7 linked regions of the Homo sapiens genome follow. The protein of the gene in region 4 purifies or fractionates together with the protein of the main gene of each other region. This does not show direct contact. Each region holds a gene or a part of one and is shown on either strand. Other genes may lie near its edges.

Evidence for each region.
Region 1: the proteins of BST1 (region 4) and PRSS21 purify together in Homo sapiens (affinity purification with mass spectrometry; one large-scale study listed by BioGRID and IntAct). This does not show direct contact.
Region 2: the proteins of BST1 (region 4) and ITGA7 purify together in Homo sapiens (affinity purification with mass spectrometry; one large-scale study listed by BioGRID and IntAct). This does not show direct contact.
Region 3: the proteins of BST1 (region 4) and HAPLN3 purify together in Homo sapiens (affinity purification with mass spectrometry; one large-scale study listed by BioGRID and IntAct). This does not show direct contact.
Region 5: the proteins of BST1 (region 4) and ARSK purify together in Homo sapiens (affinity purification with mass spectrometry; one large-scale study listed by BioGRID and IntAct). This does not show direct contact.
Region 6: the proteins of BST1 (region 4) and ITGA8 purify together in Homo sapiens (affinity purification with mass spectrometry; one large-scale study listed by BioGRID and IntAct). This does not show direct contact.
Region 7: the proteins of BST1 (region 4) and POGLUT1 purify together in Homo sapiens (affinity purification with mass spectrometry; one large-scale study listed by BioGRID and IntAct). This does not show direct contact.

What each region holds. Positions count from the first base shown.
Region 1 is NC_000016.10:2,815,798-2,820,036, reverse strand, and holds the start of PRSS21 (testisin isoform 1 preproprotein), read right to left. Parts: upstream 2,801-4,239; 5' UTR 2,769-2,800; coding exon 2,705-2,768; intron 2,608-2,704; coding exon 2,581-2,607; intron 2,237-2,580; coding exon 2,071-2,236; intron 1,361-2,070; coding exon 1,068-1,360; intron 1-1,067. UniProt on the Homo sapiens protein: Could regulate proteolytic events associated with testicular germ cell maturation.
Region 2 is NC_000012.12:55,687,487-55,690,904, forward strand, and holds part of ITGA7 (integrin alpha-7 isoform 2 precursor), read right to left. Parts: intron 1,472-3,418; coding exon 1,358-1,471; intron 815-1,357; coding exon 716-814; intron 611-715; coding exon 485-610; intron 1-484. UniProt on the Homo sapiens protein: Integrin alpha-7/beta-1 is the primary laminin receptor on skeletal myoblasts and adult myofibers.
Region 3 is NC_000015.10:88,885,545-88,889,044, reverse strand, and holds part of HAPLN3 (hyaluronan and proteoglycan link protein 3 isoform 2 precursor), read left to right. Parts: exon of another isoform or gene 1-1,619; intron 1,620-1,699; coding exon of another isoform or gene 1,700-1,746; coding exon 1,747-1,870; intron 1,871-3,500. UniProt on the Homo sapiens protein: May function in hyaluronic acid binding.
Region 4 is NC_000004.12:15,720,065-15,723,564, reverse strand, and holds part of BST1 (ADP-ribosyl cyclase/cyclic ADP-ribose hydrolase 2 precursor), read right to left. Parts: intron 691-3,500; coding exon 631-690; intron 131-630; coding exon of another isoform or gene 109-130; exon of another isoform or gene 1-108. UniProt on the Homo sapiens protein: Catalyzes both the synthesis of cyclic ADP-beta-D-ribose (cADPR) from NAD(+), and its hydrolysis to ADP-D-ribose (ADPR).
Region 5 is NC_000005.10:95,600,101-95,602,851, reverse strand, and holds part of ARSK (arylsulfatase K precursor), read right to left. Parts: intron 2,006-2,751; coding exon 1,781-2,005; intron 1-1,780. UniProt on the Homo sapiens protein: Catalyzes the hydrolysis of pseudosubstrates such as p-nitrocatechol sulfate and p-nitrophenyl sulfate. Catalyzes the hydrolysis of the 2-sulfate groups of the 2-O-sulfo-D-glucuronate residues of chondroitin sulfate, heparin and heparitin sulfate.
Region 6 is NC_000010.11:15,604,923-15,608,422, reverse strand, and holds part of ITGA8 (integrin alpha-8 isoform 1 preproprotein), read left to right. Parts: intron 1-132; coding exon 133-188; intron 189-591; coding exon 592-746; intron 747-2,000; coding exon 2,001-2,138; intron 2,139-2,631; coding exon 2,632-2,699; intron 2,700-3,500. UniProt on the Homo sapiens protein: Integrin alpha-8/beta-1 functions in the genesis of kidney and probably of other organs by regulating the recruitment of mesenchymal cells into epithelial structures.
Region 7 is NC_000003.12:119,478,963-119,482,462, reverse strand, and holds part of POGLUT1 (protein O-glucosyltransferase 1 precursor), read right to left. Parts: intron 3,287-3,500; exon of another isoform or gene 2,789-3,286; intron 2,556-2,788; exon of another isoform or gene 2,413-2,555; coding exon 2,291-2,412; intron 1-2,290. UniProt on the Homo sapiens protein: Dual specificity glycosyltransferase that catalyzes the transfer of glucose and xylose from UDP-glucose and UDP-xylose, respectively, to a serine residue found in the consensus sequence of C-X-S-X-P-C.

The sequences.
Region 1 (4,239 bases), on a different chromosome or scaffold from region 4:
CCTGGGCTGGGGAGAGAGGGTGGCAGAGGCAGCCTGGCCGTGCCCCTGGCTCATATCCACTCGTGTTTGCAGCAAGGGTCCTTCTCAGGGAAGGCAAAGGATCCCTCCTCCAGAGGGAGGCGGCTCCAGTGCTGAGTTCCCCACTCCCAACTGCCGGGGTGTGACTTGGGGACATCCCTTACCCTCTCTAAGGCAAGGGGCCCTGACTTCTCCATTTACTAGTTCTTGGCAATTTCCATAACCCTCTCAGTTTTCTCATCTGTAAGATGGGTATAAGAACGTTACCAACTTCATTCCTAGGTGAGCTCCAGCAGGAGGAGAGGCCGCGCCTGGCTCACTGCTGGGCCCCCATGTCTAGAACAGTGCCAGGCACACAGCGTGTGCTCAAGGAACCACGTTTGTTATTGTTACTACTGTTGTGGGATGATGCAGGGACGGGCCAGACAGGGGAGCAGAGGGAAGGGATTCCTGATACAGGGAACACGCCCAGTCTGGGGCTGCCGGGGCTCCTCCGGATGCTGGGCCCACTTCTTTCAGGGCATGTGTGTTGGGGGACACGCAGGTGCCAGGGCAGGCCCACCAGAGGAACCCCCAGAGGGGTTTCCGTGGGAGCTGCGGTTGAGCATGGCTTGGAAGTTTCTGGGGAGAGGAATGGGCTCAGTGCTGCAGGAGAATCGGCCAGAGCTAGGGTGGGTGTGGGAGGCATGGAGAGGCAGCCCAGGAGCCTGATGCCTGGGGCATTGGTGAGCACTGGGGGAGGTGGAAAGATGCAGGAATAAATCCAAGTATGAGGTTTATGTCGCCAAGCCCTCCAGAACCCCTCCACCACCGCACCACCCACAGGCCTGCGCCAAACTGGCCTCCCTCTCACACTCTCCTTCTGGCCCCCACAGCCCCTGGAAGGGAGAGAACTGGGTGTTTGGTCCCTGCCCTGGCAGGTGAGGAGAGACTGCAAGCAAGAGGGGCATAGCCTGCACCCCCAGACCAAGCAGGGGGCTATTGTGCCTATGCAGGGGAACAGGTGAACAAAGACAGTTCCTCCCTGACCCGCCTGTCCCCAGCCTCACCCTCATCCTCTTTGATGTACCCCCAGCCAGTCACCCAGCAGTCTGTCCGGTTCTCAAACTCAAATGTGGAGGCCTGGAGACAGATGGGCTGGATGTGTTTAGTGTAGGTGACAGGTGCAGACAGCTTCACCAAGGCAATGTCATAGGGTGAATTCCCCAGGTAGCGAGGGCTCAGATAGATATTCGATACGAAGTAACGGGTGTAGTAGGCCTGCAGGCTCCAGAAGGATGGCATGGAAGTCAGCTGGCCAAACTGGACCATCCACCCGGAGGGATCACTAAGGTCACTATAGCTGGCAGAAGAGAAGAGAGCAGTCAGGGGCCCTGGATGGAGGGCTGGCTACCTGAGCACAACTGGGGTCCAGTGCAGGAGGGGAAACTGTGGTGTTGCTGCTACTTGCTAACACCCAGGGTCCCCTGCAGAAATGAAGGAGCCCAGACAGACCACAACCAAAGTCCTAGGACCTGCTCCTGCAGCAGAAGGGTGGGGTCTTGTCACCTCCCAGAGCTGTCCCAAGGAGCCTTGCATTGAGCCAAGGCCTCCAGGGGCACCCCCATGCAGCCCAAGGAGGAATGGGGAGATGCACCACGCCAATGTGGGATTGGCAGGATGGAGTCCACACAGCGGCCCGGGGGTGCTGGCCTTGGCTCAGTGCCCCACACTGTACCGCACCGTCCACCAGGAGGGGGGATGAGGGTGGGATGGTCAGTGGTGAACTTTGGGTTGAAAGAAAAAGGGAGAGAATACCCAAAAGTGTGTGGAAATGTTCTGGAAGAACATTCTGGAATAACCTGAACAGGGTTCCCTCCAGGAGACCCAAAGGGAACTGGAGTGGGTGTAACCGGCTGCAGCACAGCCTGGGGCTCAGGAGAACACCAGGCCGCATCCACGCACAACTTTCACGCCCAAGTCTGGCATCAGACCAGAGGTAAAGTTCGGTGGCACTCCCTCCAGCCCTGTTCCTGCCCGTCCCCGCACCCCTCCGTTCGCACCCCCACTCACGTTTCAAAGCAGTGCGCCGCCGTGAGTGCCCAGCGGTGGCTGAGCAGGCTCACTCCGCATACGTGGGAATCCCACAGGCGCAGGCTCCCCTGCCACGGCCAACGCCCGAGTTCGGCGTCCTCTCCACCCACGATGCGCGACGTGATGACCCGTCGGCCGCATGGTCCTCGGATGGTCAGAGGAACTGCTGAGCCGCGGGAGGCAGCCCCCCAAGCCCGACCTCTCCCTTTCTCCCCTTCAACCCCGTCCGGGAAAGCACGTTTTTGCCCACCCAGGGTCCCCTCGCGTGTGTGCAGCAGGAAGTAGGTGACACTGGAGATCCTCCCACGTGCTCTGCAGGGCCCGCCCATCCCCCTCCAGCGTCCGTTAGTTACTTTCCACGCCAACAGAGTTCTCGATCCCGGGGGCGGGGGCGAGAGAGCAGTAAAGGCCCCCCTCTACCCCCTCACCGCCCCCCGTCCACCTCGGCCCAACGGCCCTGGCAGGAATCGCGCGTCCTGGGCGCCCTACCTGATAACGGCGCCGCCTCCTGCGACTCTGCGGGAGACAAGAAGTGACTCCCCGCGGCCTCCACCTCCCGTCCTCCCCACCGCTCCCCCGCCTCCCCATCCCGCCAGCAGCGCCCCGAGCTCACCCGGCTTCCTGAGTCCAGCCCGAGCCAGCAGCAGCGCCAGCAGCAGCGCCCCGCGCGCGCCCATGGCCTCCTCTCCCGCGGCCTGACGCCCCCTCTGCCTCCTCTCGCGCCGGGCCCGGGGCGCCCCCTGGGGGCGGGGCGGGGTGGGAGCTCTGCCCTCTACTCCCAGCTTCACCCTCCTGGGCCCAAGGGCTGTTTGGGGCCTCTCATGCCTGGCAGCGCCCTGGCTTTCAGCCCCTAGGGGCGGGTCTTCAACCACACTTCTTGATGTGGCCCAGACCCGGTGGACCCCACAGTCCCTTTCTTGTCTGCAGCCCAGGGGTCCCGGCTGCCCTCTTGGTGACCCCGTCCTCCACCTACAACCTCCTCCAGCACCAAGGGCCTGGCCCTGAGCCAGGAGTCCCCTTAAAGCCTGGGGACCCCCTGAAGGCCGGGTGGGGCCTAGAGGCATGGCTGCTCCTTCATGGGACCTTCTTGGGAAAACAGTGGTCCTCGGCCCGTTCCACCCAGAATGGGGATCTCCCCAAGTCTCTGCCCAGGCTGTCCCCACTGCGGGCTCCCGCTGGGCTCTCTTCACTTCTCTGGAACAATTTTTTTTTTTTTTGAGATGGAGTTTCGCTCTTGTCGCCCAGGCTGGAGTGCATTGGCGTGATCCCAGCTCACTGCAACCTCCACCTCCTGGGTTCAAGCGATTCTCCTGCCTCAGCCTCCCAAGTAGCTGGGGTTACAGGCGCGCGCCAGCACACCTGGCTCATTTTTGTATTTTTAGTACAGACGGGGTTTCGCCATGTTAACCAGGCTGGTCTCCAACTCCTGACCTCAGGTAATCCGCCCACCTCGGCCTCTCAAAGTGCTGGGATTACAGGCATGAGCCACCGCGCCCAGCTGCAATTCCACTTCTGAGCATACACCCAAAAGAACTGAAAGGAAGGTCTTCAAGAGATATTTGTTTTTGGTTTTTTGGGGGGATTTAGTTTTGTTTGTTTTTGAGATGGAGTCTTGCTCCATCGCTCAGGCTGGAGTGCAGTGGTGCGATCTTGGCTCACTGCAACATCTGCCTCCTGGGTTCAAGTGATTCTCCTGTCTCAGCCTCCAGAGTAGCTGGGATTAGAGGCACCTGCCACCATGCTTAGCTAATTTTTGTATTTTTAGTAGAGATGGGGTTTCGCCATGTTGGCCAGGCTGGTCTTGAACTTCTGACCTCAGGTGATCTGCCCTCTGCGGCCTCCCAAAGTGCCAGGGTGAAGGTGTGAGCCACCCCACCCAGCCTTCAAGAGATATTTGTATACCCATGTTCATAGCAGGATTATTCACAGTAGCTGACATGAAAGCAACCCAAGAATCCATTGACCACTGAACAGATCAGTGAAAATGGGAATGTACAACCAGAACCTGGGAATCCCGCCTCCCTCAACTTGAAACTTGGGAATAGCGTATTCTACTTTCAACACTTGCACTAGTGGAAGGTTAATTACATGAAAGATTAGGCAAAATGTGTGGTTAGGCGTTCTGGTTTTCCAATAAAAGTATTAAGT
Region 2 (3,418 bases), on a different chromosome or scaffold from region 4:
CTTTTTTTTTTTTTTTTTTTTTTGAGATGGAGTCTCGCTCTGTCACCCAGGCTGGAGTGCAATGGCGCCATCTCGGCTCACTGCAACCCCACCTTTCGAGTTCAATCGATTCTCCTGCCTCAGCCTCCCAAGTAGCTGGATCTACAGGTGCGTGCCACCACGCCCAGCTAATTTTGTATTTTAAGTAGAGATGGGGTTTCACCATGTTGTCCAGGCTGGTCTCGAACTCCTGACCTCAAGTGATCCACCTGCCTAGGCCTCCCAAAGTGCTGAGATTCCAGGCATGAGCCACTGCACCCAGCCTGCATCTGATTTATCTTTGAAACATCCAGGGACTAATAGAGTTCCTGAGACATGCAGGGCAAGTGTTCAGTGCAGATTTGCTGAATACATGAGTGTGTGGGTGGGTGACAGAACCACAATACAAAATGCTGCTCACCCAACCAGGAAGTCCACCCCCATCAGCCCCACCTCCAAGCCTCACCTTCCACAGGAGCAGCACCAGCAGTGCTAGCACCAGCAGCCCAGCCAGTACAGCCAGGAGGATGACCCACCAGGGCACTCCTTCTGCCACCACAGCCATGGGGTCCAAGTATACCATCACTGGGATCTGGGGAGCAAGGGGTCAATGGAGCAAGAGGTCAATGGAACAAGAACTGGAGGGAGCAGGAAAGAAGAGAGTCCTCCCCACCTATCCCCCAACCCTGCAGCTCACCACTGTGGAGGCATCTCGGAGCATCAAGTTCTTTATGGAGGACTTCACTGTGATGTTGGCCCGGACAATCACTTCCAGGGACTTCACAGCTGAGTACTCCTAAGGGAACAGGGAAGGAGACCCTTCTCCTAAATGCCCCATGTCTCCCTCCCTTCCCCTTACCTCCTGAAATTATAAATGTAATGGTGCCCAACACAGAGGATGTTTCTGCCTGGTTTGGGTTAAGAGTATGCTGCGTTTGGGCTGGGCACAGTGGCTCACACCTGTAATCCCAGCACTTTGGGAGGCCAAGGAGGGTGGATCACCTGAGGTCAGGAGTTTGAGATCAGCCTGGCCAACATGGCAAAACCCCGTCTCTATGAAAAATACAAAAATATCGGGTGTGGTGGCACGTGCCTGTAATCTCAGCTACTCAGGAGGCTGAGGCAGGAGAACCTCTTGAACCTGGGAGGCAGAGGTTGCAGTGAGCTGAGATCGCACCACTGCACTCCAGCCTGGGGGACAAAGGAAGACTCCGTCTCAAAAAAAAAAAAAAGGGGGGGGATGCTGCATTTGGACAGTGAGGAAGGAGGAGGAGAAATGAGTCCTGGAGGGGCTTTGGAGGAAGAAGAAACACAGACTAGAGCCGAGTGGTATCCTCACCTCCAGAAAGGTGCTGTTCCAGAGACGGCCCCAGACATGCAGCACAGCCGCGCGGTCAAAGCTGTAGAGTGGGCAGCTGAACACCACACAGTTGGCCGTGCCCCGGGCGCAGTCCTAGGGATAAGGACAGACAGGGGTCTAAGCCACTCAGCTCAACCCTGCTGAGACTGCCATCTCTCCCATTTTCCTTACTTGACCTCAAACTCCCCTCCTCCAGGAAGTCTTCTCAAACTAATCTTATATCCAAAATAGCTGCCTGCCCCAAATCTGAGCTATTCAGCTTTGAAATGCGTGGAGGGGGCAGCATGGAAGGGAATCTCTTACTTGACAGCACAGGCAGAGTAGCTTCCCCAAGTGATGCTTATGTTACCTAATGACAGTCCCATTTATTGAGCACCTACTACTTGTCAGGCACTTATCTCACTTAAGCTTCGCAATAGTCCTACAAGGTGCACATTATCATCCTCATTTTTCAAAGGAAGAAACTGAGGAGGCCCAAGGAGGCCAAGCGACCTGCCTCAGGTCACAGCACTAGCAAAGCTAATGAGTGGTGGAGCAAATATTTGAACTCAGGTCCATATTCGGCAAAGCCACACCCCTGCCCTAAACCCAAACTCGCTGAAGGAGGAGGAGGTAGCCTCAGGAGCTCCTGGGTAGACAGGGGACTCAGGCTCTGTTCTTTCCAGGACTGACCTAAATCCATTTGGCCCAATCACCACCTCACGACCCATTTGCCTGAAAGTTATGTTATATTCATCACACCACGATCCAGACACAGAAGAATGGCTTTAAGAGTGTCTGAATTATTTGAGTTATCTTTTATTTTGCCACTTTTGAGCCATTCAAGAATCCTTAGCCAAGCTGTCTAAAAGCAAGGCCTTCTGCCTTTTTAGTAAAAGAATCTACTTTAGTACTAGTACCAAAACAGAGATATAGATCAATGGAACAGAACAGAGCCCTCAGAAATAACGCCACATATCTACAACTATCTGATCTTTGACAAACCTGAGAAAAACAACCAGTGGGGAAAGGATTCCCTATTTAATAAATGGTGCTGGGAAAACTGGCTAGCCATATGTAGAAAGCTGAAACTGGATCCCTTCCTAACACCTTATACAAAAATTAATTCAAGATAGATTAAAGACTTAAATGTTAGACATAAACCATAAAAACCCTAGAAGAAAACCTAGGAATTACCATTCAGGACATAGGCATGGGCAAGGACTTCATGTCTAAAACACCAAAAGCAATGGCAACAAAAGCCAAAATTGACAAATGGGATCTAATTAAACTAAAGAGCTTCTGCACAGCAAAAGAAACTATCATCGGAGTGAACAGGCAACCTACAAAATGGGAGAAAATTTTCGCAACCTACTCATCTGACAAAGGGCTAATATCCAGAATCTACAATGAACTCAAACAAATTTACAAGAACAAAACAAACAACCCCATCAAAAAGTGGGCAAAGGACATGAACAGATACTTCTCAAAAGAAGACATTTATGCAGCCAAAAAACACATGAAAAAATGCTCACCATCACTGGCCATCAGAGAAATGCAAATCAAAACCACAATGAGATATCATCTCACACCAGTTAGAATGGCAATCATTAAAAAGTCAGGAAACAACAGGTGCTGGAGAGGATGTGGAGAAATAGGAACACTTTTACACTGTTGGTGGGACTGTAAACTAGTTCAAACCTTGTGGAAGTCAGTGTGGCGATTCCTCAGGGATCTAGAACTAGAAATACCATTTGACCCAGCCATCCCATTACTGGGTATATACCCAAAGGACTATAAATCATGCTGCTATAAAGACACATGCACACGTATGTTTATTGCGGCACTATTCACAATAGCAAAGACTTGGAACCAACCCAAATGTCCAACAATGATAGACTGGATTAAGAAAATGTGGCACATATACACCATGGAATACTATGCAGCCATAAAAAATGATGAGTTCATGTCCTTTGTAGGGACATGGATGAAATTGGAAATCATTCTCACTAAACTATCACAAGAACAAAAAACCAAACACCGCATATTCTCACTCATAGG
Region 3 (3,500 bases), on a different chromosome or scaffold from region 4:
CCATCTTCTCTGAGTGCCTCCCATTGGCTCAATCCCACTGGAAGCCAGAAGGCCTGGGGAACTGGGACAACAGGGACCAATACGTGTCAGAGAAGGACAGACGATGGACCTGGTGGGTGTGTGGGGCAAATGGAGGACCTCCTGTATACCCCCAGCACCCCCAGGCTTGGGACTCTTGCTGGCATCTGCACCTTTGTAGTGGCAGTGCCCTACTGGATAAACCTGTCAGTCCTTCTCCACCTGGCAAACTCCTGCATCTTCAGTCTCATTTGGACATTCCCGTTTCTGTACCTCCATCGTGGTACTCAACACACAGCAATCAAGACTGCCTGCCCACGACTCTGCCCCCTCCCTGGACCAAGCTCCTTCAAGGAGTGACCCCATCTTTTAATTGTTGAGAGCACGCAGTAAATGGCAGGTGAGCAGGGCTAGGGTGACATGAGTGAGGCAGTAGCCCTTGGTGTGAGATTTAAGCGGGGGAGGAAGGGAGTTTGCTAGAAATCTTAGTAATCAAGACAAAATATTTGAATACAATATTTAAAAAAAAATCAAATCATCAAACTACAGCCCATGGGTTGGCTACCTCTTTTGAGCGCCCACCCAAACTGGAATAGCTCCCAAGACCTCTAGCATGGTGTTCAAAAATTATTTTTGAGTTGGGCGCAGTGGCTTATGCCTGTAATCTCAGCACTTTGGGAGGCCGAGGCGGGCTGATCACTAGGTCAGGAGATTGAGATCATCCTGGCTAACGCGGTGAAACCCCGTCTGTACTAAAATTACAAAAAATTAGCTGAGCTTGGTGGCACGCACCTGTAGTCCCAGCTACTCGGGAGGCTGAGGCAGGAGAATTTCTTGAACCCAGGAGGCGGAGGTTGCAGTGAGCAACCTCCACTCCAGCCTGGGCGACAGAGCGAGACTCTGTCTCAAAAAAAAAAAAAAAGGGTTCACAATGCAGGACTCATCTTTACTTAACATACCCTCTATTCACCCTGATATTTTCTATTCTAGTCTAGTTTATTTGGCGTCATTAAAAAGTGCTGCTCATACCTTTCTTTTCTTTTCTTTCTTTTTTCTTTTTTTTGAGATAGAGTTTCACTCTTGTTGCCCAGGCTGGAGTGCAATGGCATGATCTTGGCTCACCACAACCTCTGCCTCCTGGGTTCAAGCGATTCTCCTGCCTCAGCCTCCCGAGTAGCTGGGATTACAGACATGTGACACCATGCCTGGCTAATTTTGTATTTTTAGTAGAGACGGGGTTTCTCCATGTTGGCCAGGCTGGCCTCAAACTCCCAACCTCAGGTGATCCGCCCGCCTCAGCCTCCCAAAGTCCTGGGATTATAAGCGTGAGCCACCATGCCCAGCCTGCCCATAACCTTTCAAATTCTGGCTTGAAAAACATTGAGCCTGTCATATCATCCTGCTTAATTTTCTCTGCTTTTAGCTGCCTGATACTTCCTTCTTATGATTTGTCTCTTTGCTGATCTCCCGTCTTGCCTTCGGGGTACAGCTCCCTGAAAGCAGGAACCCCATCTAGCTTGTCACTGCTGTCTTCTCAGCTCCGGGAACAGCGTCTGGCACGTAGGCGGCAGGTGTCCCGCAGTGAGCTGTTGAGCAAGCGAGTGAGTGGTGTTGGAGCAGAGGGGATGTGGGCCCTGGAAGCCAGGCTTTTCTAATTGCCTTGTTTTCCTCCCCTTCCCAGTTTGCCCTGGGGCCCCAGCCTGGCCCGGGTCACCCTGGCATGAGGAGATGGGCCTGTTGCTCCTGGTCCCGTTGCTCCTGCTGCCCGGCTCCTACGGACTGCCCTTCTACAACGGCTTCTACTACTCCAACAGCGCCAACGACCAGAACCTAGGCAACGGTCATGGCAAAGGTAGGCGACCTCCTGCACCCGGCTCTTTGCTCCCCTGGGTGACCTAGACCTCCTTGGCTCTTGCTGTGATCTGAGGGTTCCAGGCTGGGACAGGGACAGCAGCCCTGTTCCAGCAGGGCCCTTGTAGTGGGCCAGCTTGCTTCTCAGACAGGGGAAGGGGTGAGTTCATTTTCCTGTGTTCGCCAGCCCCTTCGTCATGGGGCCCAATTCACTTAGGCTTTTTACTTTCCCTAAAAGTCTTGCCAGTTGTTCAAGGTCCAGCTTGAATGTGTCCTCCCCTGGTCCCCCCAGTGGAAAGGGGACCTGGGGTCGAATAGATGTGAGTTTGAATGTTTTTTTTGTTTGTTTTTGAGATAAAGTCTCACTCTGTTGCCGAGGCTGGAGTGCAATGGCACGATCTCGGCTCACTGCAACCTCTGCCTCCCGGGTTCAAGCGATTCTCCTGCCTCGGCCTCCCGAGTAGCTGGGATTACAAGCATGTGCCACCATGCCTGGCTACTTTTTGTATTTTTAGTAGAGAAGGGGTTTCACCATGTTGGCCAGGCTGGTCTTGAACTCCTGACCTCAGGTGATCCACCTGCCTCGACCTCCCAAATTGCTGGGATTACAGGCATAAGCCACCATGCCTGGCCCGAGTTTGAATCTTATAATTCTACCTCTTACTAGCTGTGTGGCCTTGGGCAGGGAACGTTTTAAAGTAGCAGTTATTGTGCACCCAACATGGGTTGGGCGCGCTTCTAGATATTTTGCATATGTCGTCTCCTGTAATCACAAAAGCCCTGATGTAGGCAAGGGTGAAAATATACCTTTTTTTTTTTTTTTTTAAGATGGAGTCTCACTTTGTTGTCCAGGCTGGAGTGCAGTGGCGCGATCTTGGCTCACTGCAGCCTCTGCCTCCCAGGTTCAAGCGATTCTCCTGCCTCAGCCTCCCAAGCAGCTGGGATTACAGGCATCTGCCACCACACCTGGCTAATTTTTGTACTTTTAGTAGAAATGGGGGTTTCTCCATGTTGGCCAGGCTGGTCCTGAACTCTTGACCTCAGGTGATCCACCCGCCTCAGCCTCCCAAAATGCTGGGATTACAGGCGTGAGCCAACGAGCCTTGCCGAAAATACACATTTTTAACCATTAGTGCAGCACGGGTGCTGACCAGGCTGAATTGATGCTGTCTGCCCTCACAGCCTGAAAGTAGATTCTATTATCATCCCTTCTCATAGATGAGCAAACTAGGCTCAGAGAGTTGATCCAGTTGTCCAGGTCAAACAGCTATTAAAAAGACAAAGCTGAGGGCTGGGTGCAGTGGCTCATGCCTATAATCCCAGCACTTTGGGAGACTGAGGTGAGTGGATCACTTGAGGTCAGGAGTTCAAGGCCAGCCTGGCCAACATACCGAAACCCTCTACTAAAGATACAAAAAATTGGCCAGGCGCGGTGACTCACACCTGTAATCCCAGCACTTAAGGAGGCCGAGGTGGATGGATCACGAGGTCAAGAGATCAAGACCATTCTGACCAACCTGGTGAAATCCTGTCTCTACTAAAAATACAAAAGTAGCCGGGCGTGGTGGCAGGTGCCTTTAATCCCAGCTTCTCAGGAGGCTGAGGCAGGAGAATTGCTTGAACCTGGGAGG
Region 4 (3,500 bases):
ACATAAAAGGTGGTGTGGGCCAGGCGTGGTGGCTTACGCCTGTAATCCCAGCACTTTAGGAGGCCAAGGAAGGCGGATCACAAGGCCAGGAGATCGAGACCATCCTGGCTAACACGGTGAAACCCCGTCTCTACAAAAAAATACAAAAAAATTAGCTGGGCGTGGTGGCAGGCCCCTGTAGTCCCAGCTACTCGGGAGGCTGAGGCAGGAGAATGGTGTGAACTCGGAAGGCGGAGCTTGCAGTGAGCCGAGATTGCGCCACTGCACTCCAGCCTGGGCGATAGAGCGAGACTCTGCCCCCCGCCTCCCAAAAAAAAAGGTAGTGTGACCATCCTACAGATTGCTCTACAGCCACTAACAGACTAGGACAGAAGTATGAACAAACTTTAAAGGGTGGCCCCATTACACCAGCAAGTGAAGAAAGCTCACAGCAGGACGTTATGTGTAGCGTGATTGCTTTTTGTACAAAAACTAAGACAGATACATATAAATAAAAATAAGGCCAAACCAGAATCCAATGAGCACACTTACATCTGCCTCTGATAATATGTTCATGTTTGTGAACTGAAAACTTCTGAAAGGAGATGGTTATCTTTGGAAAGAACGATTTGGGTTAAGACATTTACTTACGACTTTAAGGCACAGTCAGGATGGGTGCTGTGGTCCACGCACTGTAAGAGCTTCACTGGTCTACAGAAAGAAAATAATATTTAAGGGATTATTTAAATAACTTTCATCCATCAACCATTTATGGCTTGCCTGAAAAGTCCTGGAGATACAGTAGTCTCTGACCTCAAATAATACACAAACTATTTCCTCTAAAAATATTAGTGGCCCAGCACGGTGGCTTACACCTGTAATCCCAGCACTTTGGGAGGTTGAGGCAGGAGGACTGCTTGAGACCAGGAGTTTGAGACCAGCCTGGGCAACATAGCGAGACCTTGGCTCTACAAAAAAAAAAAAAAAAAAAAATCTAAAAATTATCTGGGTGCAGACGCTCATGCCTATAGTCTCAGCTACCCAGGAGGCTGAGGCAGGAGGCCCAGGAGTTCAAGGCTGCAGTGAGCTATGATCGCACCACTGCACTCCAGCCTGGATAACAGAGTGAGGCCTTGTATCTAGAAAAACTAAAACAAATGAAAATATTAGCCAGCATTTATCAAGCACTTCCTACGTACCAAGACATTTGATTATATCTTTTGTAAGGATCATGTCATGTAATCCTCATAACAACCAAATGGAATAGGTGCTTTATCTTCTCCAATTTACAATTGAGAAAGCTGACCACAATAACCCACCCAAGTTCTCACAGTAGCAAGTTGAAGGGCTGAACTTGAACTATGCAGGCTGACTCTAGGGCCTGAGCTTCTAACCATTTCTGTATGCACGTACAACTCGTATGACCTGATAAGTACTTTGGGCAGAAGGTTGGACTTGAACCACATGGGTGATGGCCAATGCTCAGGCATCAGAGAGGAAAGCTAACTTGCTGTGCACAACAGAGGGAGAAGATGTGAAGTTCCAAGCCACCAGGAGGGGAAGGGAAGCAGCAATGAAGACAGGAGCCAGGTCTTGGTGGCACACGGGGAGTTAGGTAGGAGGCAAGCCTAGACAGGATCTCTGTGGCACGATCACTGCAGGGGACTATGGAAGAACAGGAACGTGATATTGTTGTCTCTATGGCATGCCATGTCTTCTGTCCTTGACTCAGCTACCTTTCAGTAGTGTCTACTTGATGCACATATTTTTATTTTTTATTATTATACTTCAAGTTCTAGGGTACATGTGCACAACGTGCAGGTTTGTTACATATGTATACACATGCCATGTTGGTGTGCCACACCTGTCAACTCGTCATTTACATTAGGTATGTCTCCTAATGCTATCCCTCCCCCCTCCCCCTACCCCACGACAGGCCCCAGTGTGTGATATTCCCTACCCTGTGTCCAAGGGTTCTCATTGTTCAGTTCCCACCTGTGAGTGAGAACATGCGGTGTTTGGTTTTCTGTCCTTGGGATAGTTTGCTCAGAATGATTGTGTCTAGCTTCATCCATGTCCCTACAAAGGACATGAACTCATCCTTTTTATGGCTGCATAGTATTCCATGGTGTATATGTGATGCACATATTTTTAATAAAAGTAGTTATCTGTCATTGTTTATGCCCAAAAACAGGTATGGAGTTTTCACTGAGTCTGATTCAACACAGTACTGGCAGAAACCAACCAGAAGGTAAGGGAGGCCATGAAAAGATAAGCCCCCTCCAAAATGGGCAAGAACCTCAGGGAGAACTTTCTACTGATGTGGGGCAGAAGGCAATGCCACCTGAATTGTGAGGGGCAGGAGTTTCTCACATCTGGGTTGGAGTTGGATTTGTTATGTTAACCCTCATCACTTTCCCATTTATACCTTTCATTATATCCTCTCTGCTCCTGACACTAACACAGAAACAGCCTATGGGCAATAAAGAAATGGGAGCTTCCTCATTTCTTTACTGAGTCAGGCCTGGAAGAGAAGAGCCCTGAGGCTGACTGAGGTAGGGACACAATAGAGAGGAAGCACATAAGCCCAGACCCAGGGCAGCCGTGAGGGGCAAGGAGACCTGGGCTCTGGCCCGGCTATTATAACTCAGCCCAATGACATAAAAACAAAGCAAAGTGGTTGTGAATGCAACAATTTTAGCTACAATTTTCTCCATCATTGAGCTTTTTGTTGTTGTTGTTTGTTTGTTTGTTTTTGAGGGGGCGATGGCTAGGGGTTTACTTTGTTTTATTTTGAGACCAGGTCCTGCTCTGTCACCCAGGCTAGAGTGCAGTGGCACCATCATAGCTCACTGTTCCCTTGAACTCCTGGGCTCAAGCAATCCTCCCACCTCAGCCTCCCAAATAGCTGGAACTACAGGTGCATGCCACTGCACTTGGCTATTGAGCTGTTTTGGATTAAGAACTGATTTTTTTTTTTTTTTTTGAGACAGAGTCTTGCTCTTGTCACCCAGGCTCTTGTCACCCTGGCTCACTGGAACCTCTGCCTCAAGTGATTCTCCTGCCTCAGCCTCCCGAGTAGCTGGGATTACAGGCACCAGTCACCACACGCGGCTAATTTTTGTATTTTTAGTAGAGACGGGGTTTCACCATGTTGGCCAGGCTGGTCTCGAACTCCTGACCTTGTTATCCGCCCGCCTCGGCCTTCCAAAGTGCTGGGATTACAGGTATGAGCCACTGCACTCGGCCAAGAATTGAATGTTTTTTAAAATGTACTACTGGAGCTTCAATTAAGGAAGGAAGAGCTTGGTAGCAGGAGGGAAAGAGCGTGCGTTAAGGCCATGCAAAGCTGGGTTCAAAACTCAGCTCTGTCACTGAGTTTAAAGCTTAAAGACAGATAAAACTAATTAATGGCATTATAAATCTAGAGAGTGGTTACTATGGGGGTGGTGACCAAAAGAGGCCAATGGGAGCCCCTGGGGATGCTGAGTATGTTCTGTTTATTGGTCTGAGGGCTGGTT
Region 5 (2,751 bases), on a different chromosome or scaffold from region 4:
CTACAAATTCTTTATATAGACAAGTCATGTTCCTGCAACTTTACTTAGTCCTAGTTTTCTTTATATATTAGTATCTTATGCTTGGAGTTTTGAAAGTTACATTCATCAGTACTGTCCATTTGAACAAACAGCCATGGAAATACAAACTTCTCAATCACTGCCAGCAAGAAAATAATGATAAATATTTCAGATCCATAAAGATACTTTTTAGATATGGTATGGGAAGACAGGGATATAACTAGTATACCAATCTAACTGGAAGAACAGCAAGTCAGAGATCTTATGACAATTAACTTCAGATAGTAAATGAACACTGTATGTTGAGGGAAAAACCTCTATGGGCCTACTTAAGTGCAGTAGCCAAGAGGCCCCTGAAGAGATATGTGACTTTGCTAGGTAATTTCCAGATGGTACATCTTTAGGAAAGGGAAATCAATAAGCCCTAAAAAGTACAGAAAAGGCTGATTCCCCACTTCTGACATTTTGATAGTCACATCAGTTTTTTGGTAGAACATGGTATAAAAAACAAAATTTCAACAAATTTAAAGAACAAATTGGCTTTTATTTAGTGATTCCTGAATTGGGCAGCAACCCCTCTAAAGATTTAGAAAAGGCATTCTGATGAGCTGAGCAGGGGAGGTGGGCTTTATAGGCAGAAAAAGGCTGATGAAAAAGTCCCAGAAACATGGAACAAAAAGCAGATTCGTCATTATAGTGTTACTTTCTTTGTCCAGTAAAAACAGAGGAGACTTCCTTATGCTGGTTCAGGTAAAATGAGCCCCTTCGGATTGGTTATTGTGATTCTCTTTTTTTTTTCTTCTAAAGTTCAGTTTGATTATGGGGCACCTACTGCCAGTGACCCCATTCTGGTTTGATGTGGTCTGTTGAGCCTGGTGTAGGAACTCAGTTCAAAACAATGGCCTCCCATAAATTTCATTTGACAATGGCCAATGAACAAGCAAGAGATGCCCATTACTCATCAGGATGAAAATGTAAAGACTTCCTTTTTCAGCCAAGAATCCTCCACTCTTCAAGTGAAGGGGGTTGGCCAGTTTGGCCCCCAAAGTATTATTTTGATAATAATTTTGCTATTTGTAACTGGGAAGGAGCCTTAGGGAGAAATAAATATTACTTATGGCTTTAGCACATATTTTATGTACTAAATGGGGACAAAGGATGAGTAAAACCCTGAATCTAAAAATGCTGCTTAAAAATTAATTCATAGAGTAGTGAAGCTGGCAGACATTTTTTAGAAGCTGTAAGAAGCATCAATTTTACAGTCACAGCTTCGTTGAAATCTCAGTTCTGCTACTTCTTAGCTGTGAGACCTCACACAGGTATCCAAATTTCTCTCATAGACTCCTCTGTAAAATGAGGATAATGGTACTATCTTGTGGGGTTGTGGTGAACATTAAATAATACATGTAAAATGTCAGGCTTCATAAGATAGGTGTTAATCCTTCAGAACAATGAGGTACAATGAGGTGTTGACTTCAAATTGGGAAAGATAACCATGAGTACTGAAAGATGCCCTGATCAGAGAAAACTGGTTTCAGTCATGAGACCCAGATCAAAAGCCTTAGGACACTTTCTCTGAAATTCAGCTGCTGATCTGCAAAGAGGCTGTTCCTCACATGGGCAACCTTTTGTAGATCGTCCTAGCATGAGAAGCAGCAGATATTCATTTATTTAACAAGGATTATTGGATATCTTGAGCAATGCTACATAGGGCAGTTCATTACACATAATATTACACTTAAAAATATATTAACAAACTTACCAAAGAGTTGAGGCAATATTGATGCACCATCCGAATAGGCTATATATTTCCAGTGGTTAGTTCGAAGCATGTAGGTGGAGGCATTCACATTACATCCATGGAATTCACTCAGAATCCAGGGTGGATGCAGGTTTTTGACTTTATGTTCATTCTTAAATGTTTCTGATGATAACGGCAACAAAGAGTATCCACTCAGGTTCTGAGGCAGAGGAATTCCAGCAATATCTATGTAACAAAAATAACCAAATATCTTAAAATAGCTCATTCTTTTATTAGCTGAACATTCACAAATAGCATCATTCACATTTTTTTCATACCATTAAATGCCATGGAGACTGGAGATTGTATATGGATTTTGTAAACAGGCTGCCAAAATTCACATGCTTACCCCACTGGCCATGTGGACTTCAGCAAGTAATTTACTTATCTCAACCTCAGTTTTCTCATCTGTAAGAAGGGGATGACCACAGTACTTGTATTTATTAGGTTCATTTTAGGTTTAAATAAGATACTTTATGTAAAATTCTAAGAACTCTGAGGACAATGCCTGGCAGATAGGAGCCTTCAACAAATAGTTAATATCACTATTCCTTTTTTCTCTAAATGATTAAATAATCATAGTTGTTTCTCAAAGTTTCTTTCATGGGATATTAACAAGTCTTATACAAGAAAGGGGTTTAGTAGTCTTATATGTTTGCAAAACAATGGTTAAACAAAATTAAATACATAAGTTTGTTGTAGATGTAAATTTATTGCTGATGTATATGATAAACCTTCAGGAGTGGTATATAGTATACTATGTGCCCCAAAGTTATGTGATAACAGAGCTTTTTACATTCTCAAGTAGCATCTTGAGGGACTAGCATCTTGAAAAACATGCTTTCAGGAATTGTGGATTATATTTAGGAAGGGAAAAATAATTTTTAACTTACCAAATGTAGACATATAGAACAACAGCATGAGAAATGTTC
Region 6 (3,500 bases), on a different chromosome or scaffold from region 4:
GTGTGTGTGTGTGTGTGTGTAATTAGAAATATATAGAGAAAATGATATTCGTTATCTGGGATTAGGTAAAGGAAGGCTTCTACTTTAGATTCAAAACTTTATTAACCAATAAATTACTACTATTTTCTATAGCTTTTCTTTAAGAGTATGTGCATCTGTCACAGGCCAGAGCATTGCAAACACAATAGGTAAGCATGTTTTCATTTTTACATTCTTATGGTATACTAAGAAAGTTGAACAGTAACCATTTCTCTGCACAGACCATAAAAAAATGAAAGAACCCTTGAGGAATACCAAGATATCTGTTGCATATATGGAACCTTCTAATAAATATTACTTCAATACTTGGTAATACTATTATTTATAAGAACATATAATTGTAGGGAAAATGACAACTTTTATAAAACCATTATAAAACATTTGTAGCTTGGAGAGTATGTTATACAATTTTTCCAGCTCATTTATCATGCTTGGTCTCAACTATGAAAAAGAACTGTTTCCTGAATAAGCAACTTGAAATAGAAATTCATCTCTCTGATAGAGCACTGTGTTCACTGAATACTTTTTCTCTACTTTACTTCTGTCCTTTAGTCTTGATGGCAGAGGTGCAATTAGATTCCCTGAAACAGAAAGGAGCTATTAAACGGACGCTCTTCCTTGATAACCATCAGGCTCATCGCGTCTTCCCTCTTGTGATAAAAAGGCAGAAATCCCACCAGTGCCAGGATTTCATCGTTTACCTTCGAGTAAGTATTCCAGAAAGACTTCTCTGGCCTCTCTCCTTCATATCCAAATTCCAACCATTTTTCTCCATTTAACCATCATGTTTGTCTGCATAGACCCCCATCTGTCTGTTTTCATTTTCATAGCAGGAAACTTTATTTTAGGGTCAAATACTCTCCTCTTGACCCTGACTTCAACTAACCTGATGATGTGTTGCTATTAATTTCTAAGGCTTCTTTTCATTTTGATCAAAATCTTTATAATGGCATTCAGCTCACATGGTTTTCATTTCTACCCACCTCCTCCCCAAAATACATAAAAGTGCAACACAGTTTATGTGAATTTTTCTCCTATGTGAGTATGTCTTGTTAGATTTTATCAATGCATGTTTCAGAGCCAATTCAGGAAAATATTTAGGCATTCAAAGCTTTTATTAGAAGTAACTTATAATTATCTTATTTAAAGTAATGTCTTTTTACAATGACTTCAAAACCTACCGAAATTTTAAAGTAAAAATATTTATAACACAATTACCTATCTTCACCTTGCCGGTTGTGAGGTTGTGATAACTGTCTCAATTTCTCTTTTCCATTAGGGGACTTAGTTAGCAAGGACCACCCTAGGGAAGATCACAGGTTCACAATCACACTCAAGAATGAAAAGTTGGATACCTGACCCTTGATTGGCAAACAATTGAAGGGTGACATATCCACCGTGTGTTTAGTGCTTGCTGTTTGGTGCTTACCCCTCTCTACTAAAGGAGTTCTGTTTCTTTTTCCAAAAGAACTTCAAATATCCTGAAGGTGTTCTGAAGTTCATGCAGGCAAGGGCTTAAAAAGATGATGAGAGGAAGAGAATCAAGATGTTTTCTTCTTCTGAGCCCCAAGAGAGAACTCATAAATTCTGGCAACCTCACGAAAATAAAAATCCAAATTCATGATGTTTTTTGTGACATTTATGATATACACGTGTAATCTTTTACTTTGCAACTTGACCAGTTCTGCATGAGTTGTTGAAGGTCTGGAGAACCCAAAGATTGGCTCCAGAAGCGTATTTCAATGAAGCCGCAGCTCTAAATGATTTCATCACTGCACATATATTAGGTATGCTGGCTACTATATACCACATAAATCAGCCTCCATCTAAGCCTGCTGCAAAGATAATTGTTTCATCATTCACTTTCATTGAGTAAATTCCAGTGTTGCCTGACTTTTGCAGACTGACATCTTGCAGCTATTTCATGGAGCCTCTGTTGAGTTTGTGATTATTTTTCCTAGGATGAAACTGAATTCCGAGATAAATTATCTCCAATCAACATTAGTTTGAATTACAGTTTGGACGAATCCACCTTTAAAGAAGGCCTGGAAGTGAAACCAATATTGAACTACTACAGAGAAAACATTGTTAGTGAACAGGTAAGTCCTTCACAGTCTTTGACGGCATTTTCTCAAGCAAGCTCTCTGGGGTGTTGTTCTCATGGCTTTAAGACTAAAGCCAGCTCCTTTCATTTTTACTTCTGCATGCAGACATGGAACATTTGGGAGTTTTCCTACCATGTTTCCTGAAACACTGCATGATTGTGTTTTTCGGAAGCCTTTCCTCTTGTGCAATCAAGATTTAATTTGTTCAAAATGTGGCTGTAATGGAAGCAATACAGCCTGTAATCCTCAAGCCATAGGCAGAGTTGCATTCTTTGCAGATATTTCAGAGTGCATTGGAATTGGGCTATTATGTAAAGTAGCCTGTATTGGGAGGTCACTGTGAAATGTAGGCTATTGGCTTGGGTAGAGTCATGCATAGTGAGAGGAAAGCTCTGGTTCCGTTTGTGGCACCATTCAGAATTTTCAAGAAAAAGGATGTGAATCAGATTTTCCTAGATTGTTCCTGACGTGCGTTTATACAACACAGGCTCACATTCTGGTGGACTGTGGAGAAGACAATCTGTGTGTTCCTGACTTGAAGCTGTCGGCTAGACCGTAAGTTTAAATAACTAAATGTGTACTTTCTATCTAATGGAATTACAGGTATTTATGTAAAGGTTCTCTGGAGAAAGTATACACTTCCAATAACTACCAAAAACTATGCTGCGTGAAATTCTTGAGCTTGGCTACACTTTGGGTTAGCCTGTGGTTTGGGTCAGTTATTTGTCATTGGTGTCAAATGACACACCCTAAGATTTTGCCTGGGTCGTTTCATCTTTCAGCAAAAGTGGGGAAAAAAATGTTTTTGTTGAAAGTAAACTCATTGATGGGGTGGCTCGGGTTATGTTTACTTGCCTCAGTCAAGTAGACAAAGGATTCAGACAGGCAGGTTCCATCTACACCTTCAACCAAACTTTTTTTCAGCACCCCATGACTCAAAGCCATCCTTAAAACTGTCAAAACAAAATTAATTTTAACTTATTGAATAAATAAACCTAAATAGCACTCTATGGAGTAAAGCAGAAGGTGTCACAAAATTGAAACGAATCAAAGGGCTTCACAGTTGCCAGTAATGGACGCCCCCATTCCAGCACTGGAAATTGCACTGTATTCTGTTATGGGAAGACATGGACTAGGATGTAAAACATTCTGTGGTCAAGAAACAGATTTGTGTTTCTTTCCCTCCCAGGAACTATCTCACTGCCAGTGTTTGGAATCTGCTTGGTAACTTCTCAGAGGGACTTCCCCCAAATTTCATAATTTATCAACTTCAAATGCAATCGCTTTAAGTAAGGTTAAAAAGTGGAGTAGGCATTTCCAACTATTGGCTTGATTTGCAGTTCTAAGTGAACTGCA
Region 7 (3,500 bases), on a different chromosome or scaffold from region 4:
GACCCCAGGAGTTTGAGTCCAGCCTGGGCAACATAGTGAGATCCTGCCTTTTAAAAATAAACAAACAAACAAATAAATAAAGTGACTCTTTCATATGTACTGACATGAAACAAAGACATGGAAAGATTACTTAGATACACCAATAAGTTAGGGGGAAAGTTGCCTGAGTTATACATATTTGTAAAATTTTATGAGCATATATAGGTTTCATAATCAGTAAAAATGTTTTTAAAGATTTTGAAAACAAAGCAGCTGCATGGCAGGTGGGAAAAGAGCTACAAAAAGAAGAATGTGAAAAGGGTATTTGCAAGTACCTGAGGAGGGGGGGAAAGGATTAGAAAATTAAGGCCAAGGCCAAGAATAACTTAGGGAAAAAAAAGTTTAAAACCTTTTTTCCAGCTTAGTGTGGTGGCTCATGCCTGTAATCCCAGCACTTTGGAGGCCAAGGTGGGAGGATCACTTGAGCCCAGGAGTTTGAGATCAGGCTGGGAAACATAGCAAGACCTGTCTCTACAAAAAATTTTAAAAAACAACCAAGAAACAAAAAAACCACACCTTTTTCCCCCCCTCTCAAAATTATGTTCAAAACCCAAAAATAAACAAGAAATGACAGTCTCAATGTCAGGAAAACACAAGGAATATTAACCAGTAAAGTAGGTTGGATAATGCACTTGGAAACCTGGTCTTTAGGCCTAGATTTGCTTCTGACCTTGACCAGATCACTAAACCTTTCTGTACCTTCATTCCCTTATCCCTGAAATAAAGGGCTGGACAAAGACAATTTCTAGTTCCAGTTCTGTAAAATATGAGACTAAGTTATTATTTTTTAAAATTTCCAAATTATACCCACTAGAGAAGTTTGTTTTTTAACAAAGGGCTCTACCCACCACTGAGGACTGCAGCCCTGTACGTTTCTTCAGGAAGGGAATATTACCTTAATCCTCTTTGAATCTTCAGCCACACTTGGGAGAGGTGATAGGTATTTATGGAAACAAGGTTGAATTGTTTGCTTTCCTTATACCTGAGAGAAGGCCTATAATGACTGTGTTTCCGGAAGTTCTCTAATTAAGCACCAAAGTTGTTTGAATCATGATGTAAAATGTAGCTAGGTAAGAAATACCTACAGCTTGGATGAGCTACACAATCTAAATTCTGAAATGATAGCAGGATGGAGTCAACAGGCCAAGGCATGTCTCAGTCATGAATCAGAGAGGATCTGGAATAAGCTTGTACTTGAGATGCTTATGGGACATTTATGCTCCCTCAGCCCTGCCTAAACTACTTAGCTCTCAATTGCCAAGTATGTTTATATTCTTCCAAATAATTTTCTATCCCCCCTATGACGAGGTCATTCATTTTTTCTTACTATGAAAGAATGCACTCTTATTTAAAGAATCTTAAGTATAGAAAAATTGAAAATACTGACTGAGCACAGGGGCTCGTGCCTGTAATCCCAGCACTTTGGGAGGCCGAGGTGGGTGGATCACTTGAGGCCAGGAGTTCCAGACCAGCCTGGGCAACATGGCAAAACCACATCTCTACTAAAAATACAAAAAATTAGCCAGGTGTGGTGGCACATGCCTGTAATCCCAGCTACTCGGGAGGCTGAGGCAAGAGAATTGCTTGAACCTGGGAGGCAGAGGTTGCAGTGAGCCGCGATAGCACCACTGCACTCCAGCCTGGGAGACAGAACATGACTGTGTCGCAAAAAAAAAAAAAAAGAAAGAAAAATTTAAAATACAAAACAAAAGTCTCTGATAATCCCTTGCAAAGAGGCATTGCTGATAGTTTAGGATAGACTATTCTGCCCCTTTCTATGGATATGTAAATATTATTAGACACGTACAAAATTGTTTACACTACAGTTTTCTGTCTTTAATTTTTAACTTAAAAATTAGTCACTTAAAAATAAATAGGCTGGGCGCGGTGGCTCACGCCTGTAATCCCAGCACTTTGGGAGGCTGAGGTGGGCAGATCACCTGAGGTCAGGAGTTCAAGACCAGCCTGACCAACATGGAGACACCCCGTCTCTACTAAAAATACGAAATTAGCCGGGTGTGGTGGCACATGCCTGTAATCCCAGCTACTCGGGAGGCTGAGGCAAGAGAATCACTTGAACCTGGGAGGCGGAGGTTGCGGTGAGCTGAGATCACGCCATTGCACTCTAGCCTGGGCAAAAAGGGCGAAACTCCGTCTCAAAAAAAAAAAAAGTAAATAATTGGTTATATTCTATGGCTTATTTCAAGAAAACCCAGAAAGAGAAAAAATAAAACCTCTTTAAAGGACCTACCTTACCAGATCTTCTCTGAAGAGGTCCCACCGTCCAAGACCTGTAGGATAAATTGGCCAAACAGCAGGTCCCCCTTCCCAAAATGTCCAAGCAGGATACATGATATCATGGTACTCTGATGTCTTCAACAAAAACAGACAGGTCGTCCTAAATCAGTCTTGGAACAGTGAAAAGAGGCAACTGCAATCATGCCACAGGATCTGGACAGCCTTGGTTTAGTGTCACATTGTCAAAGATATATTTTCCCTATTTTCCAAAGTCTAGCCTGTAGACATTAAAAGGCAAAAGTGACTATGGATTAAAAGTCATGGGCTCACTGAATTCCAGAATTCAGAATCACATTAAAGGTCAGCTTTTTCAGTTCCCCCAAATTCTGTTTTTCTAGAGGATATATACTGTTAAGATTTCCAATTTAAGGAAACAATATGCCCAATTCTGAATAATCACAGAGCTCTCTCATTGTTTAACTATTACATTTAAGAGTTTACACTGTCTTACCAGTTTTTGGTTATTTCCCAATGGGTTTTTTTGAGAGTAAGAGCCAAGAAATACATGCAATGGTTAAGAGTGTGGGCTCCTGATGTGGATCACATGGGTTTGGATTCTGACTCCACCTCTTTACAGCTCTAGGCAAGTTACTTAATGGTTCTATGCCTCAGCTTCCTTATCACTGTAATGGGGGAAACAATAATATCAATAATATGATCTAACTAAAAGGTTTATTTTGAATATTAAATGAGTTGATACACGTAAAATTCTTAGAACAGTAGCTGGCACATTGTACATACTTGATAAATATTGGCTAGTGTTATCTCATACTATGGCACTGTTGGGCTCACATTGATTGGTCAATAAATTCTTGGTTATTCACTGATCGGGGTCAGAAGTATGGATGAGCAAAATGAGAAGGGGTGTTATCACATATCTTTTGAAAGAAGTTTGAGGTTGGGCACGGTGGCTCACACCTGTAATCCCAGCACTTTGGGAGGCCGAGACGGGTAGATCACCTGAGGTCAGGAGTTTGAAATCAGCCTGGTCAACATGGTGAAACCCTGTCTCTACTAAAAAATACACACAAAATAATAGCCGGGCATGGTGGCAGGTGCCTATAGTCCCAGATACTCAGGAGGCTGAGGTGGAGAATCACTTGAACCTGGGAGGTGGAGGTTGCAGTGAGCTGAGATCGCGCCACTGCACTCCAGCCTGGGCA